5 separate regions of the Homo sapiens genome follow, and all the other regions are reported to be linked to region 1. Evidence: microRNA targets listed by miRTarBase, many of them from high-throughput screens and not tested one by one. Region 1 holds a microRNA gene; each other region holds the end of a gene's coding sequence. Distances are between the middles of the regions.
What was found. Region 1 holds the annotated microRNA hsa-miR-6878-3p (CUGGCCUCUUCUUUCUCCUAG, at 822-842, shown strand). A microRNA usually pairs through its seed, bases 2 to 8, with sites in the 3' UTR of a target mRNA and lowers its output. Matches are read on the target gene's strand: a 7mer-m8 pairs with bases 2 to 8, a 7mer-A1 pairs with bases 2 to 7 and ends in A, and an 8mer does both.

Region 2: miRTarBase lists FAM221B as a target of hsa-miR-6878-3p. Seed matches in the 3' UTR shown: 7mer-m8 at 2,017-2,023, 7mer-A1 at 1,764-1,770 and 7mer-m8 at 927-933.
Region 3: the mRNA of CCDC125 is a reported target of hsa-miR-6878-3p. Seed matches in the 3' UTR shown: 8mer at 2,088-2,095.
Region 4: the mRNA of SLC38A5 is a reported target of hsa-miR-6878-3p. Seed matches in the 3' UTR shown: 7mer-m8 at 2,541-2,547.
Region 5: the mRNA of MRTO4 is a reported target of hsa-miR-6878-3p. The part of its 3' UTR that is shown has no 7-base or 8-base seed match.

Annotation. Positions count from the first base shown.
Region 1 is chr1:150,491,569-150,495,847 of GRCh38, forward strand. It overlaps MIR6878 (microRNA 6878), which reads left to right and starts at 777; the gene lies at 777-842. It overlaps TARS2 (threonyl-tRNA synthetase 2, mitochondrial), which reads left to right. Exons shown (of 18, transcript NM_025150.5): 6 at 30-94; 7 at 843-921.
Region 2 is chr9:35,815,947-35,818,946 of GRCh38, forward strand. FAM221B (family with sequence similarity 221 member B) reads right to left here. Exons shown (of 7, transcript NM_001012446.4): 6 at 2,944-3,000; 7 at 445-2,560. The coding sequence ends at 2,523. Among named protein-coding and RNA genes, the nearest start is that of HINT2, 2.4 kb to the left of the region's middle.
Region 3 is chr5:69,280,054-69,283,053 of GRCh38, forward strand. It overlaps CCDC125 (coiled-coil domain containing 125), which reads right to left. Exons shown (of 12, transcript NM_176816.5): 12 at 122-2,981. The coding sequence ends at 2,676. Among named protein-coding and RNA genes, the nearest start is that of CDK7, 47 kb to the left of the region's middle.
Region 4 is chrX:48,456,116-48,459,115 of GRCh38, forward strand. SLC38A5 (solute carrier family 38 member 5) reads right to left here. Exons shown (of 17, transcript NM_033518.4): 17 at 2,429-2,919. The coding sequence ends at 2,818. Among named protein-coding and RNA genes, the nearest start is that of SLC38A5, 13 kb to the right of the region's middle.
Region 5 is chr1:19,258,659-19,261,658 of GRCh38, forward strand. It overlaps MRTO4 (MRT4 homolog, ribosome maturation factor), which reads left to right. Exons shown (of 8, transcript NM_016183.4): 8 at 23-1,470. The coding sequence ends at 172. Among named protein-coding and RNA genes, the nearest start is that of MRTO4, 8.4 kb to the left of the region's middle.

The DNA.
Region 1 (4,279 bases):
TCTTCAATCTCCCTTCTACCTTTTTCCAGGATAACCCCTTTAAGCTTCACTTGATTGAGGAGAAAGTGACAGGTCCAACAGCAACAGTATATGGGTAAGAGTTGTCAAGATTAAGGCAAACAGAGAGGTGGGGAAGCATTGAAGAAGGCCAGAAATGCGATAAGGGAAGAAAGATAGAAGGTAATTTGTGTTGCTCCAGAAAAAGAAATGGGAATGGGAATTGATTTTTTTTTTTTCTTTTTTTGAGACGGAGTCTTGGTCTGTCTCCCAGGCTGGAGTGCGGTAGCACGATCTCGGCTCACTGCAACCTCCGCCTCCTGGGTTCAAGTGATTCTCCTGCCTTAGCCTCCAGAGTGGCTGGGATTACAGGCATGTGCCACCATGCCTGGCTAGTTTTTTTTTTTTTTTTTTTTTTTGAGATGAAGTCTTGTTCTGTCACCCAGGCTGGAATGCAGTGGCGCGATCTCGGCTCACTGCATCTCTGCCTCCCGGGTTCAAACAATTCTTCTGCCTCAGCCTCCCGAGTAGCTGGAACTACAGGCATGCACCACCATGCCTAGCTAATTTTTATATTTTTAGTAGAGACGGGGTTTCACCATATTGTCCAGGCTGGTCTCGAACTCCTGACCACGTGATCCACCCACCTTGGCCTCCCAAAGTTCTGGGATTATAGACATGAGCCACCGCGCCCTGCCAGGGAATTGATTTTTATCTGCCATTGCCCTCTCTCAGTAGGACAGTTCCTTTCTCTTCACCTCTTCTGTCAGCTAAAGACCATGAGAGGGAGAAAGCTAGAAGCTGAAGATTCTGAAAATCACTAACTGGCCTCTTCTTTCTCCTAGGTGTGGCACATTGGTTGACCTTTGCCAGGGCCCCCACCTTCGGCATACTGGACAGATTGGAGGACTGAAGCTGCTATCGGTCAGTTGTGGGACAGAGTTAGGTTAAGATTCCTATTTTGAGCCGGGCATGGTGGCTCACGCTTGTAATCCCAGCACTTTGGGAGGCTGAGGCAGATGGATCATAAAGTCAGGAGTTTGAGACCAGCCTGGCCAATATGGTGAAACCCCGTCTCTACTAAAAATACAAAAATTAGCTGGGTGTGGTGGCACACACCTGTAGTCCTAGCTGCTCGGGAGGCTGAGACAGGAGAGTTGCCTGAACCTGGGAGGCGGAGGTTGTAGTGAGCCGAGACTGCACTACTGCACTCCAGCCTGGGCAACAGAGCGAGAGTCCATCTCAAAAAAAAAAAAAAAAAAATTCCTGGTTTCACTGGGATGAGCAGGAGAATCGGAAGGTGATACTTTCTGTCGGCACCCCCCTTTTTTTTTTTTGAGACCAAGTCTCTCGGTCGCCCAGGCTGGAGTGCAGTGGCGCGATCTTGGCTCACTGCAAGCTTCGCCTCCTGGATTCAAGCAATTCTCCTGCTTCAGCCTCCCGAGTAGCTGGGATAATAGGTGTGCACCACCATGCCCAGCTACTTTTTGTATTTTTAGTAGAGACAGGGTTTCACCATGTTGGCCAGGGTGATCTCAAGTGATCTTCCCTTCTCAGCCTCCCAAAGTGCTGGGATTACAGGCATGAGCCACTGAGCCTGGCCCTGTACTCTCATAAGCTGAGCGGGGAATACAGGAGAAAGAAACTTTGTCCCCACATTCTAAAAACCCGTTTGATGGCACACACTGGACAGCCTGCTAGGGCCCAGAAGCCAATTCAGATGCCCTAATATGATGTCAGTATTAAGGGGGGTGGAGGGGTGGAGCAGGAGGGTGTGAGCAAGCTGGATGGGTCATACAGGGAAGGGTTGTAGAGAGAGGGGGCGTGGTCCAGGAGGAAGATGAACACCATTTGACAGGCACAGGGAAAATACCTTTAGTAAAGGGCATGCTTTTTATGAAAATACCGTTCTGCATGGTGGCTCACGCCTATAATCCCAGCACTTTGGGAAGCCGAGGTGGGTGGACCACCTGAGGTCGGGAGTTCAAGACCGGCCTGACCAACATGGAGAAACCCCGTCTCTACTAAAAATACAAAATTAACTGGGCGTGGTGGCACATGCCTGTAATCCCAGCTACTTGTGAGGCTGAGGCAGGAGAATCACTTGAACCTGGGAGGTGGAGGTTGTGGCGATCCAAGATCGTGCCATTGCACTCTAGCCTGGGCAACAAGAGCAAAACTCCGTCTCAAAAAAAAAAAAAAGAAAAGAAAATACTGTTCTGGACAAGAAGAGTTACTAGATGGAATGGGATGAGTTACAAGGGAGCAAGGGGAAATGCAGATGTGTAGAGCAAAAAGCTCTGAACTTAGACTGGGCATGGTGGCTCATGCCTATAATCCCAGCACTTTGGGAGGCCAAGGTGGGTGGATCACTTGAGATCAGCCTGGCCAACATGGCAAAACCCCATGGCGCGGTGGCCTTGGGTAAATCTTACTTATTTTCCCCATCTATAAAATGAGGCTATTAATTCCTTTTTGTCCTACCAGTAAATTCACCTCATAAAGATAATGAAAACCAGGCCAGGCATGGTGGCTCACACCTGTAATCCCAGCACTTTGGGGAGGGTGAGGCAGGCGGATCACTTGAGGTCAGGAGTTCGAGACCAGCCTGGCCAACATGGTGAAACCCTGTCTCTACTAAAAATACACAAATTAGCTGGGTGTGCTGGCCTACGCCTGTAATCCCAGCTACAAAAAAGGCTGAGGCAGGAGAGTCACTTGAACTCTGCCAGGAGGCAGAGGTTGCAGTGAGCTGAGATTGTGCCACTGCATTCCAGCCTGGGCCACGGAGCGAGACAACATCTCAAAAAAAAAAAAAAAAAAAAAGATAATGAAAACCAACTAATTCAGGAAAAAGGAAAAGTTAAAAAGTGCTGTAAAATACAGACTGTCGGCCAGGTGCGGTGGTTCACACGTGTAATCCCAACACTTTGGGAGGCCAAGTTGGGCGGATCACTTGAGCTCAGGAGTTCAAGACCAGCCTGGCCAACATGGTGAAACCTCGTCACTACTAAAAATAAAAAATTAGCTGGGCGTGGTGGCATGCACCTGTAGTCCCAGCTACTCGGGAGGCTGAGGCAGGAGAATTGCTTGAACTGGGAGGCAGAGGTTGCAGTGAGCCAAGATTGCACCACTGCACTCCAGCCTGGGCAACAGAGTGAGACTCTGTTTCAAAAAATATACATATAGGGGCTGGGCGTGGTGGCTCACGCCTGTAATCCTAACACTTTGGGAGGCTGAGGCGAGTGAATCACGAGGTCCAGAGATCGAGACCATCCTGGCTAACACCGTGAAACCCCGTCTCTACTAAAAATACAAAAAATTAGCCAGGTGTGGCCGGGCGCAGTGGCTCACGCCTGTAATCCCATCACTTTGGGAGGCTGAGGCAGGCGGATCATGAGGTCAGGAGATCGAGACCATCCTGGCTAACACGGTGAAACCCTGTCTACTAAAAATACAAAAAATTAGCTGGGCGAGGTGGCGGGCGCCTGTAGTCCCAGCTACTTGGGAGGCTGAGGCAGGAGAATGGCGTGAACCCTGGGGGGTGGAGCCTGCAGTGAGCCAAGATCACGCCACTGCACTCCAGCCTGGGCGACAGCGAGACTCCGTCTCAAAAAAAGAAAAAAAAAATTAGTCGAGTGTGGTGGTGGTGGCCTGTAGTCCCAGCTACTTGGGAGGCTGAGGCAGGAGAATGGCGTGAACCTGGGAGGCGGAGCTTGCAGTGAGCCGAGATCGCGCCACTGCACTCCAGCCTGGGTGACAGATGTATATACACACACACACACACGTATAGACTGTTTCTCATTAGTACTGTTTAACAGTTTTATTTTATTTCATTTTTATTTTTTTGAGACAGAGTCTTGCTCTGTTGCCCAGGCTGGAGTGCAGTGGCCTGATCTCGGCTCACTGCAACCTCTGCCTGCCAGGTTCAAGCAATTCTCCTGCCTCAGCCTCCTGAGTAGCTGGGTTACAGGCACGTGCCACCACACCTGGCTAATTTTTGTATTTTTAGTACAGACAAGGTTTCACCATGTTGGTCAGGCTGGTCTTGAACTCTTGACCTTGTGATCCACCCACCTCAGCCCCCCAAAGTGCTGGGATTACAGGTGTGAGCCACTGCGCCCGGCCTCTCATTAGTACTTTTTTGTTTGTTTGTTTGTTTGTTATTTTTTGAGATGGAGTCTTGCTCTGTCGCCCAGGCTGGAGTGCAGTGGTGCGATCGCGACTCACTGCTAGCTCCACCTTCCGGGTTCATGCCATTGTCCTGCCTCAGCCTCCCGAG
Region 2 (3,000 bases), not on the chromosome of region 1:
TTTTTTCTTTTTTCTTTTTTTTTTTTTTTGAGACGGAGTCTCGCTCTGTCGCCCAGGCTGGAGTGCAGTGGCGCGATCTCGGCTCACTGCAAGCTCCGCCTCCCGAGTTCACGCCATTCTCCTGCCTCAGCCTCCCGAGTAGCTGGGACTACAGGCACCCGCCACCACGCCCGGCTAATTTTTTGTATTTTTATTAGAGACGGGGTTTCACCGTGTTAGCCAGGATGGTCTCGATCTCCTGACCTCGTGATCCTCCTGCCTCGGCCTCCCAAGGTGCTGGGATTACAGGTATGAGGCACCAATAAGTCAGGTTTGCACTGCTGGAATATATATTTTTGACATAAGAAACGTGGGGTCACAAAATACTAATATTCTCAGACGCTAGGTAAGTTTTAGTCTGATATCACATAGGACAAGTTACCACTGTTTCTTTGGTTTTTCTTTTTTTCTTTTTTTTTTTTTTAAACACATGACCTGATACATATAGGTGGTCAGTAATTGTTGAATGAATAACATTTGGTGTTTCCTGTCTTTTTTTCATAATATGTAATATGTATTGCATATGATACTAACCCATGTGTAATCAATTTTTCATATTTTTACAGTCTACGTAAATATAGTTTGTATTGGCTGCTTATTATTTCCTTCAATGAGTTTATCATAGTAATCCTAACTCTATTGTTGACTATTAGTTGAATTAGTTTTAGGTGAATGGTTATCATGGGGCATATAACCACTGTTGGGGAACTTTGCTTCTAGAGATATAACAATCTCTTTTGTATAGCTATATTATTGTTAGAAAATCCTTTCTCCTCTAAAGGGCAGACATTTGATTCTGTGATTTTCCCCAGGGATCCTAGCAGTCCAGATTGCATTCCTTCCCTTGGAGGAACAGATGGCCCCCCTAATTGTGAGGAAATGTAGAATGGCCTCTTCTCTGGGCCCCAGAGGCTGCAGTTCTCTGTGGTGCCTCTGGGACACTGGGAGACCCTAGAGTTGCCCTGGAGAAGGGCGAGAGATAAGTGGATCTGGGATCTAGGAAGAGGAAGGAAGCCAGTCTGGAGGATAGGTGGATACAAAGCACTTTGAAATTAGTTATTTCTTTGGTTCTCATAGAAAGTAGGCAACACAGAGGTTATTCCTGTTTTACAGGTCCAGAAACTCAGCCTAAAGAGGGACAGTGACTTGCCTGGGTTCACAGAGCCCATTAGTGCTGGAATCTCCTACTCCCATAAGAACCTATGGACTCCCTTGTGACTTCCCACATTCACTGATTTTGATCCTTGGCCCACAGTTTTCTCTACTTCAAGCACTTATCACCTTCACTTGCCCTCATCTGAAAGATGTTATGCTCTGCAGCCTCTGAACACTGTCTCTTGTACTCCAACCCCTGCCCCTACGTCTGCTACTGTACCTCATTAGAGACTTCTCTTCCTTTGACTGCTCCCTTTTTCAATCTGTCATTTGCCTCCTGGCATCACTTTCTTTCCCTATTGGTGCTGTATGCTCCCTTCACATCCTCATGCCTTCTTTTGCTTAGTTTTCCTGATCTTCCTCCCTGACACCCTCACATCATCAACCCATTAAATATTTGGATTCTCTGCTTCTCTAACTAGGTTCTCACTTCCAACTGTGCCCGAATCCTGAACTACCCACTGATGAGGTTTTTCTCCAGTTCCCTACATTAGCCTTCCCAAACCTTCCCCTTTCTCTTCTTGTCTCCTGCTCCCTACTCTTATCCCTCTTCCCCTGGACCCCAGCCATTGGCCTTATCTCCTACTTCACAGGGCATATAGAAGCCATCAGAGGGGAACTTCCACAGGTTCTTGTTCCCTGAAACTCTAGGAAGGCTCCATCCTCTTCCTTCGTCTTGGTCATAGGAAGTGGTGTTTCTCCTGTCCAGAGAAAATCCCTTCACCTCTGCTTTGACCTCATCCCTTTCCTCCATCTCTGGGATCTTGTCTCACCAGGCATCTCTTCTCTCTCTTCTGGGTCCTTCAAGGTCCTTTAGTCTACTGGCCTCTTCCCCTTTTCCTTCCTACAAAAGTACTTCCTTGACTCCACAACTCCCTCTGGATATTGTCTGACTTTACTTTTGTACTTTTCATCCAAGCTTCTTTAAGAGACTCCTTGAAACTCACTGCTGTTTGACTCCTGCCTCCACTGCACCAGTGTGAAACTGCACTCTCCGATGTTCCCAAAGATCTTCTAATTGCAAAACCCAATGGACACTTTTCAGTCTTTATCTTATTGGTGCCCCAACTGCATCTAACATCACTTCCCACTCTATCCTTCTTGAAACTTCCTCCCTTCTTGACTTCCTTGAAGCCACTTTCCTTCAACAGGCAGCTTGAATGTGAGTGTGATGGAGGCAGATGGCCAGATCCAGGCTTTCTCCTGTGTCTAATAGGTGTCAACTCTAAGTTATTAGGCAGTCTCTCCCTGGGCTGGGATCTACCTGCCCCATATAGAGCCAAGTCAGGTTCCAATGACTCCTCTTTTATTGCTGATCTGGGCCAGACTCACAAAGGCCTGTGCCAGTTGCTGACAGTGTCTGTCCCTGGAGGAAGAAAGAGCAGAGGTGAAAGGGTCAGGTATGGGGGTCAGAAGGGAGGCCAGGCTGGAGACCGTGTGAACCAGGGAGCCCCGGGGGACTAGGGTGGGAGCTGGGAAGGCCAGAGGGCCCCTGTATCTGCAGGGCCTAGAAGTCAGAGTTGCTGAGGATGGCTTCTCGGAGCACAGCCATCTCTGCAAAAGGTACATAGTCTGCTCCTGGGGGTGAAAACCAGTGCAGATGTGGGATGCAGGTAGGTGGGTGGTGGGGAGGTGGGCTGAGGGAGCGCGCTAGTCCTGGAAGGGATGGTTGAGGATGGGAGTGCCTTCCTGCCTGGCCTTCTGACTACAGACCCTGGAATGGCCCCCTGTCCCAGGTTTCTGCCTCACCGCGAGGCCTTCCTCCTCGTTGCCGGGTCTTCTGGGTGTCAAAGAAAGTCTCGTGTT
Region 3 (3,000 bases), not on the chromosome of region 1:
CAGTCACCTACCACCAAGTCCCTCCTTCAACATGTGGGAATTATGGGGATTACAATTCAAAATAAGACTTGGGTGGGGACACAGCCAAACCGTATCAGGTAGTCAAGGAAATGACCATTTTCTCATGACCATACAGCCAACACAATAAACCTCAGCATTCACATTGTAATTGAGCTCATTTAAGCAAAGCTATCTTCAGTAGGGACTTTCCCTTCTAGAGAGCATACACATTTTGATTTTACCTGTCCTCAAACTGATCCTTTGCACATGATAATAATAAAAAACACACCTCTAGGTGGAAATTTAAGATGCTACTGAGACATGTGGTGTATGAACAAGCATTAACAGCTACTGCACCTGTGCAGAGGACCACCCAGGACATGATTACTGCAACACCTCACCTCCTTATGAATAATAATGCAAAACTCCCATAAAGGGAGTTTCTCCAGCAATAATCAATGCTGTCTCACCCTTACGAGCAGCCGGCCCTGAATTCTCTCTCTCAGGTGTACTGTCTGTTCTGCACCTAACTTTCAAAATACTCCTTTTCTTTTGCAATAAATTATGCTGCATCTCCTTTGCTGTCTCATTTAAATTCTTTTAAACCAAGAAGACAAGAACTGAGGTATCACAACAGCTGTCAACACATGCATTTTGCTTTATTCATTTGCTTTATCTTATGGATCTCTCCATTTTGTAGAGTATTCCATTGTATAGCTGTACAGTAATTTAGATAAACTTTTGTATTGATAGCCTTTTCTTTTGGAGATGGGGGTCTCACTCTGTCACTCAGGCTGGAGTGCAGTGGCACAATCACAGCTCACTGCAGCCTCAAGCTCCTGGGCTCATGCCATCCTCCTGCCTCAGCCCCTGAGTAGCTGGGACAACAGGTGCATGCCACCATGCCTTGCCGAGTTTTTGTATAGATGGGGTTTCACCATGTTGCCCAGGCTGGTCTTGAACTCTGGACTGGTCTGGACTTGAGATTCAGACCAGATCTGTAAGCCACTGCACCCGGCCTTGATAGCCATTTGTTTTCATACACAGCAGCAATTAGTAGCCATTTAAGATATCTGTGCGCCAGCCTACAAGAAATACAAATGTACAGGGTAAAATCCTAGCTGGATCAAATATGAGCTTTGTAAATTTTTAAAAACTTTTTTATTGAGTTGTGGTTTATGCCTGTAATCCCAGCACTTTGAGAGGCTGAGGCAGGAGGATCCCTTGAGGCCAGGAGTTTGGCACCAGCCTGAGCAACACAGTGGGACCCTGTCTACACACACACCCCACCCCCACACACCCCAATTCACATACCACAAACAAAAAAACTCCTAGAAATCACCTTGGCTCAGGCAGCTTCTTCAGATTCCTGAGACCCCATTTCCTGGATCATCACAACCATCTCACAGGATGCAATGAAAAGAGCTGTTAAGCACTTTGTAGACTTGGCTACAAATCTGTGCAGATTTGGTTGCAAAATGTTACTACCCTGACAAGAAGCCATGAACGCAGCCGGCACTGACTCAATATACTTCTGCCAAGGTCCCACCATCAAAACTGTCTTATTGAAGTTAACTTAAGGAAATTGTTATTTCTAAACTTCATATGGTAAATGAAAAATACTGAACAAGGCAAATAAAACAAGATAAATGAATTCCAGAAATTAACATTCAGTCAGTCCTAGGTATTGTTACTTTTTAGAGCATTAAGATACATTGCTATATTGTTGATTTAGCCAAGCTAAGATCCCTATAGTCAATCAAAATAGTTAAATAATTTTTTGTTTTTCCCAAAAATCATTATTTTTTGTTTTAGGATGTTGGCAAACACTGTAATGTGTTTTTTTTTTTTTTTGAGACAGAGTTTCGCTCTTGTCGCCCAGGCTGGAGTGCAATGACACAGTCTCGGCTTACCACAACCCCCGCCTCCCAGGTTCAAGCGATTCTCCTACCTCAGCCTCCCAAGTAGCTGGGATTACAGGCATGCGCCACTAGGCCTAGCTAATTTTTTGTATTTTTAGTAGAGATGGGGTTTCTCCATGTTGGTCAGACTGGTCTTGAACTCCAGCCTCAGGTGACCCACCCACCTTGGCCTCCCAAAGTGCTGGGATTTATAAGCATGAGCCACCATGCCCAGCCTGTAATGTAATTTATAAATACAGTAATGTAATTTATAAATAAAATGTCAACACAGAATACTAATTTCTTGTAGAAAATGTAGAAAATAGGCTGGGTGTGGTGGCTCACGCCTGTAATCCCAGCACTTTCGGAGGCCAAGGCAGGCGGATCACTTGAGGTCAGGAGTTCAAGATCAGCCTGGCTAACATGGTAAAACCCCGTCTCTACTAAAAATACAAAAATTAGCTGGGCGTGGTGGCACATGCCTGTAATCCGAGTTACTCGGGAGGCTGAGGCAGGAGAATTGCTTGAACCGGGAGGCGGAGGTTGCAGTGAACCGAGATCACACCACTGCACTCCAACCTGGGTGACAGAGCAAGACTCCATCTCAAAAGAAGAAAAAGAAAATGTAGAAAATATTTGATTTAAGTGACCTCCTAAAATTTAGAAATACCTAGGAAACATACAACTTCTCAAGATGCAGCAAAATTTACAAAATCATTTTTCAAAGTATCTCGATATAAACAACTCTCAGTTCCAATTTCAACTGGCTTGTCTTTAAAATATGATACTTGATGGCAAAGAATGGGATCTTTTAAGAGTTCTATAGTTTGGATCTATTTGAGAGTGCTGGATTGAACAAATGCAGCCCACAGAATTTAAAATGCAGACACTTGAATGTATAGGATCACCCAAAACAGAGAATTCTGAAGTCTTACGCCAGGGGTTGTTGAAAGGGAAATTCTCTTTTATAGGATTTTTTTCTTTATTCTCGTTTGAAGCAGTGTCTTTGTCTTCCAATGCCCGAGCAAGCATGTAGCTAACTTTTCTTTGATGAGCCAAAGCTTCTTCTTTATCATTAAGCTGCATGCACAGAAATTAA
Region 4 (3,000 bases), not on the chromosome of region 1:
AATAAAATAAAATAAAATAAGCCGGGTGTGGTGGCATATGCCTGTGGTCCCAGCTACTTGGGAGGCTGAGGTAAGAGAATCACTTGAACCCGGGAAGTTGAGGTTGCAGTGAGCTGTGATCTCACTACTGTACTCCAGGCTGGATGACAGTGAAACCCTGCCAAAAAAAAAAAAAAAAAACCTTATTTCATAAATACGGCTCATGCCTGTAATCCGAGCACTTTGGGAGGCCAAGGTGGGAGGATCACTTGAGCCCAAGAGTTTGAGACCAGCCTAGGCAACATAGAGAGATCTCATTTCTACTGAAAATTTTAAAAATTATCCAGGCATAGTGGCGCATGCCTGTAGTCCCAGCTACTCAGAAGGCTGAGGCAGGAGGATAGCTTGAGCCTGGGAGGCTAAAGCTTCAGTGAGCCGTGATGGCACCACTGCACTCCAGCCTGGATGACAGAGCAAGACCCTGTCTCAAAAACAGTTAAAAATTAAAAATTAAAGAATTAGAAATACACACACACACACACACACACACACACACACACGTATGTGAAGTGTAATGGCAATACCATTTTTTCTATGAGGTTGACAAAAATCTGTTGCATTGCTCAGGCTGTTGACAAGGCTGTGGTGAAAATGGCACTCACATACTCATGCTAGCTTCTCCTTGCTCTTGCTTGGACCAGCCATGCTCGTTCCTACCTCGGGGCCCTTGCACCTGTTGCTCCCTCTGCCTGGAACACCCTTTGCCAAAATAACCATGAGGCTTGCTCCTTTCAGCCAACCTAGGACCAAATTCATTGCCCCCTCCTTAGTGAAGTCTCGCTGAATGCCTCCTCACCCACCACCTCCCCACACCACTCTCACATCGCTCATTTTCTTCATTGCACCATCTTTATGAGGAATGATTTCTCTTTTATTCTCTTTGTTAGGTCAGAGGTCAGCTAACATTTTCTGAAAAGGGCCAGAGAGTTAATAGCTCAGGCTTTGCAGGCCATATGGTCTCTGTTGCAAATCCTCAGCTCTGCACGAGAAAGCCACAAACAATATGTAAATGAAGAAGACACTGTAAATGATATGTAAATAATTTAGACACTGAAATTGATATGTAAATGATTTAGACACTGAAATTTGAATTTCACATAATTTCCAAGTGTCACAGAATATTATTTCTTTTAATAATATTTTTTCATTTTCTTTTCTTTTTTTTGAGACAGAGGCTGGAGTGCAGTGGTGAGATCTTGGCTCACTGCAACCTCTGACTCCCAAGTTCAAGCGATTCTCCTGCCTCAGCCTCCTGAGTAGCTGGGATTACAGGCGCGTGCCACCATGCCTGGCTGATTTTTGTATTTTTAGTAGAAACGGGGTTTCACCACGTTGGCCAGGCTGGTCTAGAACTCCTTACCTCAGGTGATCTGCCCGCGTCGGCCTCCCAAAGTGCTAGGATTACAGGCATGAGCCACCACACCCAGCCCCTTTTCTTTTTGAGACAGGGTCTCACTCTGTCACTCAGGCTAGAGTGCAGTGGCGTGATCATAGCTCACTGCACCCTCAATCTCCCGGGCTGAAGCGATCCTCCCACCTCAGTCTCCCAAGTAGCTGGGACTATAGGCTTGCACTATCACACCCGGCTATTTCTTTTAATATTTTTTGTAGAGATGGGGTCTTGCCGTGTTGCCCAGGCTGCTCTCAAATGATCCTCCTGCCTCAGACTCCCAAAGTGCTGGTGATTACAGGCATAAGCCACCATGCTGGATCCACCTTTTTTCAATCATTTAGAAATATGAAAGCCAGTCTTAGTTCAAGGGCCATACCAAAATAGGCAGCAGGATGGATTTGCCCACTCGTGTGTCAGAACATCAACTCCAGGGCACTATTGTCTGCTTGGTTCACTGCTATATCCCCAGCACCTAGAATAGTGCCTGGCACCCAGTAGGCTTTCAGGAGATGTTTACCGAGTGAATGAGTGAAGTCTTTTTCTGTGTGTGAGATGGAGTCTCACTCTGTCGCCCAGGCTGGAGTACAGTGGCACAATCTCGGCTCACTGCAACCTCCGCCTCCTGGGTTCAAGCGATTCTCCCGCCTTAGCCTCCCAAGTAGCTGGGACTATAGCGTGCACCACCACACCCAGTTAATTTTAGTATTTTTTAGTAGAGACGGGGTTTTGCCATGGTGGCCAGGCTGGTCTCAAACTTGTGATTTCAAGTGATCCGCCGGCCTCAACCTCCCAAAGTGCTGGGATTACAGGCGTGAGTCACTGCTCCTGGCCAAGTGGGTGAAATATTAAGTTGAGTAGCAAGTTACTGAAAGAGTGAAGTGAATGAATGCATGATCAGGCACAGTCCCACTCGCAGGGCTTCAGTTTGCTCCAGCCTGGACTCCGGCAGGCTCCCCCAGCAAGACTAAGAGAAAGATCAGAAGGCTGAGTCCAGAGTGGTAGCTCAACATCTTTATTTTTCCTCTTTAGCCCGAGGGTAATCCTGACAAACAGCTTCAGCCAGGAGGAGGCAGAGAGGACTGGGCTGGGCAAAGGCTCCACCAGGACCTGGCCTCCTCCTCCTCCTCCTCCTCCTCCTCCTCCTCCTCTTCTTCCTCCTCCTCCTCCTCCCATGGGGTTGGGGTTGGGATTAGGGCCATGATCCAAGCTTGGCATCCCTGGGGAGGAGGGAAGTGGGCCAGTCTGCAGCCTCTGCTGTCCCCCGCCTCTGACAACCACGTTCATGGGAACCAGCCACCTCCACATGTTGGGCAGGAGGGACCCTAGGGAGCGGCCCTGACCCCTCCATGTGCATGCGCACAGGGACCTGGGCCAGCAGGGCCTGATCAGTGTCCAGACATGCGGCTCTGGCCTGTGGCCCAGTTGGCAAACATAAAGCCTAGACTGACGGCCATGAAGAGGACTCCCAGGACTCCAAAGCACAGGGCCTGTGGGCCAGAGAGACAAGATGGGGCTGGTTGGGACTCCTCACCCAGTTGCCTTCTGAGAATGTTCCTCAAGTCTTCCAC
Region 5 (3,000 bases), 130 Mb from region 1:
TTGTTCCCTTTGTCTCTTGCAGAAGCTTTTTGGGTATGAGATGGCTGAATTCAAGGTGACCATCAAATACATGTGGGATTCACAGTCGGGAAGGTTCCAGCAGATGGGAGACGACTTGCCAGAGAGCGCATCTGAGTCCACAGAAGAGTCAGACTCAGAAGATGATGACTGAAAGGGACTCGGGACTGAAGGTCTCCTGGAAGCTTCTGGGTCTCACTGGACCATCAGGACTGCTGCCGCCCCTCTGGAGAGAGCAGCTTTTTATTTGTCTGTAGACAGGGAACATGATGGGCACTGACCTCCTGTAAAGAATAAAACTGTGGGCCGGGCGCGGTGGCTCACGCCTGGAATCCCAGCACTTTGGGAAGCCGAGGTGGGCAGATCATAAGGTCGGGAGATTAAGACCATCCTGGCTAACACGGTGAAACCCCGTCTCTACTAAAAATAGAAAAAAAAACTAGTTGGGCATAGTGGCATGTGCCTGTAGTCCCAGCTACTCAGGAGGCTGAGGCAGGAGAATCACTTGAACCCGGGAGGTGGAGGTTGCCGTGAGTTGAGATTGGACCACTGCTCTCCAGCCTGGGCAACAGAGTAAAACTCTGTCCCAAAAAAAAAAAAAGAATACAACCTTGCAGGATGTCTCTCCTGGAGACAGCAAGAGGGAGAGGAGGGAGAGGGCTCTTTCTTAGAAAAGAGGCCTTTGGTGAGCCCAGAAGTTTGAAACCAGCCTGGGCAATTCAGCAAGATCCCGTCTCTACAAAAAATAAAAAAAAATTAGTCGTGGTGCCACTTGCCTGTGGTCCCCACTGCTTGGGAGGCTGAGGTGGGAGAATTGCTTAAGCCTGAGAGTTGGAGGCTCAGTGAGCCATGATCATGCCACTGCACTCCAGCCTGGGTGGCCATTGAATTCTGCGTGGATTGCCTCAGTTTGCCTTGTCAGCCAACTTCCACTGGCTGCCTTGGCACTGCCATGACAGCACAGCTCCACACCAGAGCTGGGGTTTCTCTTCAGTCCTGGGTACCCCTTGGCAGAGGGATTTGCTGAGGAAAATTAGGTATCCTTCCTAGCCCTCCACACACTTCCAAACCAGGGCTGCGGATCTGATGGATGCCAGGAAGACAGCCTTGGGCTGAGAGTGACATCACTGCAAGAGTTGAGAGCCAGCGTCTAAAGTGTCCACGGCATCCTGGGAGGTTTTATCCTTGGTGACTCTAATGGTAGATTTTTGTCCACCTTGTTCTATTTGCTTTTGTTTGTTTTTGATTTTTCTGTTTTAAAATTTTAAGGAGAGATGGGGTTTCACCATGTTGCCCAGGCTGGTCTCAAACTCCTGAGCTCAAGCGATCTACCCACCTTGGCCTCCCAAAGTGCTGGGATTATAGGTGTGAGCCACCGCATCCAGCCCACATTGTTCTATTTGTATTTCATGAAAGCAGTTCTGAATGAGAGTAAATCAGCTTCAGGGTGTACAGTGGCCCTCTTTTTTCTGCCATGCATGGAAGAGGGCCACCTCCAGCCCTGCTGTTGGGAGGTCAGGCTGGGTCCCACGGTGTGGGGTGACCTTCACAACGGCATTGTGCCTCTGACACCCTCTCAGTGCCTCTGTTCTTTGGAGACTTCCTACTCCCGCCCACTTCTCACCACGCCCTTGGGAAGGACAGCAGGAAGCAGGCTTCGGGCAGAAGAGGAATTCACCATGTTCACCCAGGCCTAGGCCAGGTCAAGCACCAGCCTCAGCAGGAAGTGCTGAAGGAGAGCTCAGGCCCGGCCCTCTCGCCTTGTGAGGATGACTGGGAAGACTGCACGAGTGTAGGGGAGGATCTGCAAACCGGGCTGAGAGGGGAAAGCAGCCTACAACCATTTAAGGCCAAAACTGGCCAGGGGGAGAGAATGAAGGGTGGCAGGTGGTGCCCTCCGCACCTGAGCCAGGTCTAGCCAGACCTGGAGGAGGTAGTGGGATGGTCAGGTGCCAGGCTTGGTCGGCGGCCTCTGTGACAGCCGAGTCCAGGGTCCCTTTGCTGCTGCCAGTTTCTCCAATTGCTCCATCCAGGATGACCACGTCCCTATGCATGCCCTGTAAGGGAGACAGCTAGACTTCAACACATTTCTGCTGCACAGTGACTAATCATGCCCCTCCCAGCCATGGCCCCGCCGCTAACTGGGCTCTGGTTATTCACGTATGCCTTGCATTACTGCTTGCAAACAGCCATGACCGTTGGGCTTTAAAGCCCTGCCTCCACGCTGTCTCAGCTTTAGACAGCTGACTTCAGAGCCACTCATCTGCTGCTCAGCAGCTGGGTAAACCCAGGTCAGTCACCCAGCCTTTCAGCTTCAGACTTCAGGCCGCTTGTCTGAATTAGAAATTGTGTGAAGCACTTTGCCTGCAGACCAGGCACGTAACGTGCTCACTAAAGGGAAGCCATAACCATATAATACCCAAGCTGGAGAAGGGGGTTAGGGACAGCAGGGAGAGGGAAACCCTGCCACTACACACAGGGTTGGGCTGTCTCCAGGGTGGGCAGCCAAGGAGCCAGGAAAAGCTAATGGTTAAAAATGTAGGTTTCAGACCAGATGCAGTGGCTTGCACCTGTAATCCTAGCAATTTGGAATGCTGAGGTGGGCGGATTGCTTGAGCCCAAAGACTCAAGATCAGCCCAGGCTCAGGCCGGGCACGGTGGCTCATGCCTGTAATCCCAGCCCTTTGGGAGGCCGAGGCAGGCGGATTACGAGGTCAGGAGATGGAGACCATCCTGGCTAACACGGTGAAACCCCGTCTCTACTAAAAATACAAAAAATTAGCTGGGCATGGTGACGGGCGCCTGTAGTCCCAGCTACTCGGGAGGCTGAGGCAGGAGAATGGCTTGAACCTGGGAGGCGGAGCTTGCAGTGAGCCGAGATCACAGCACTACACTCAGCCTGGGTGACAGAGCTAGACTCTGTCTCAAAAAAAAAAAAAAGATCAGCCCAGGCAATGTAGTGAGACCCCTGTCTCTACAAAA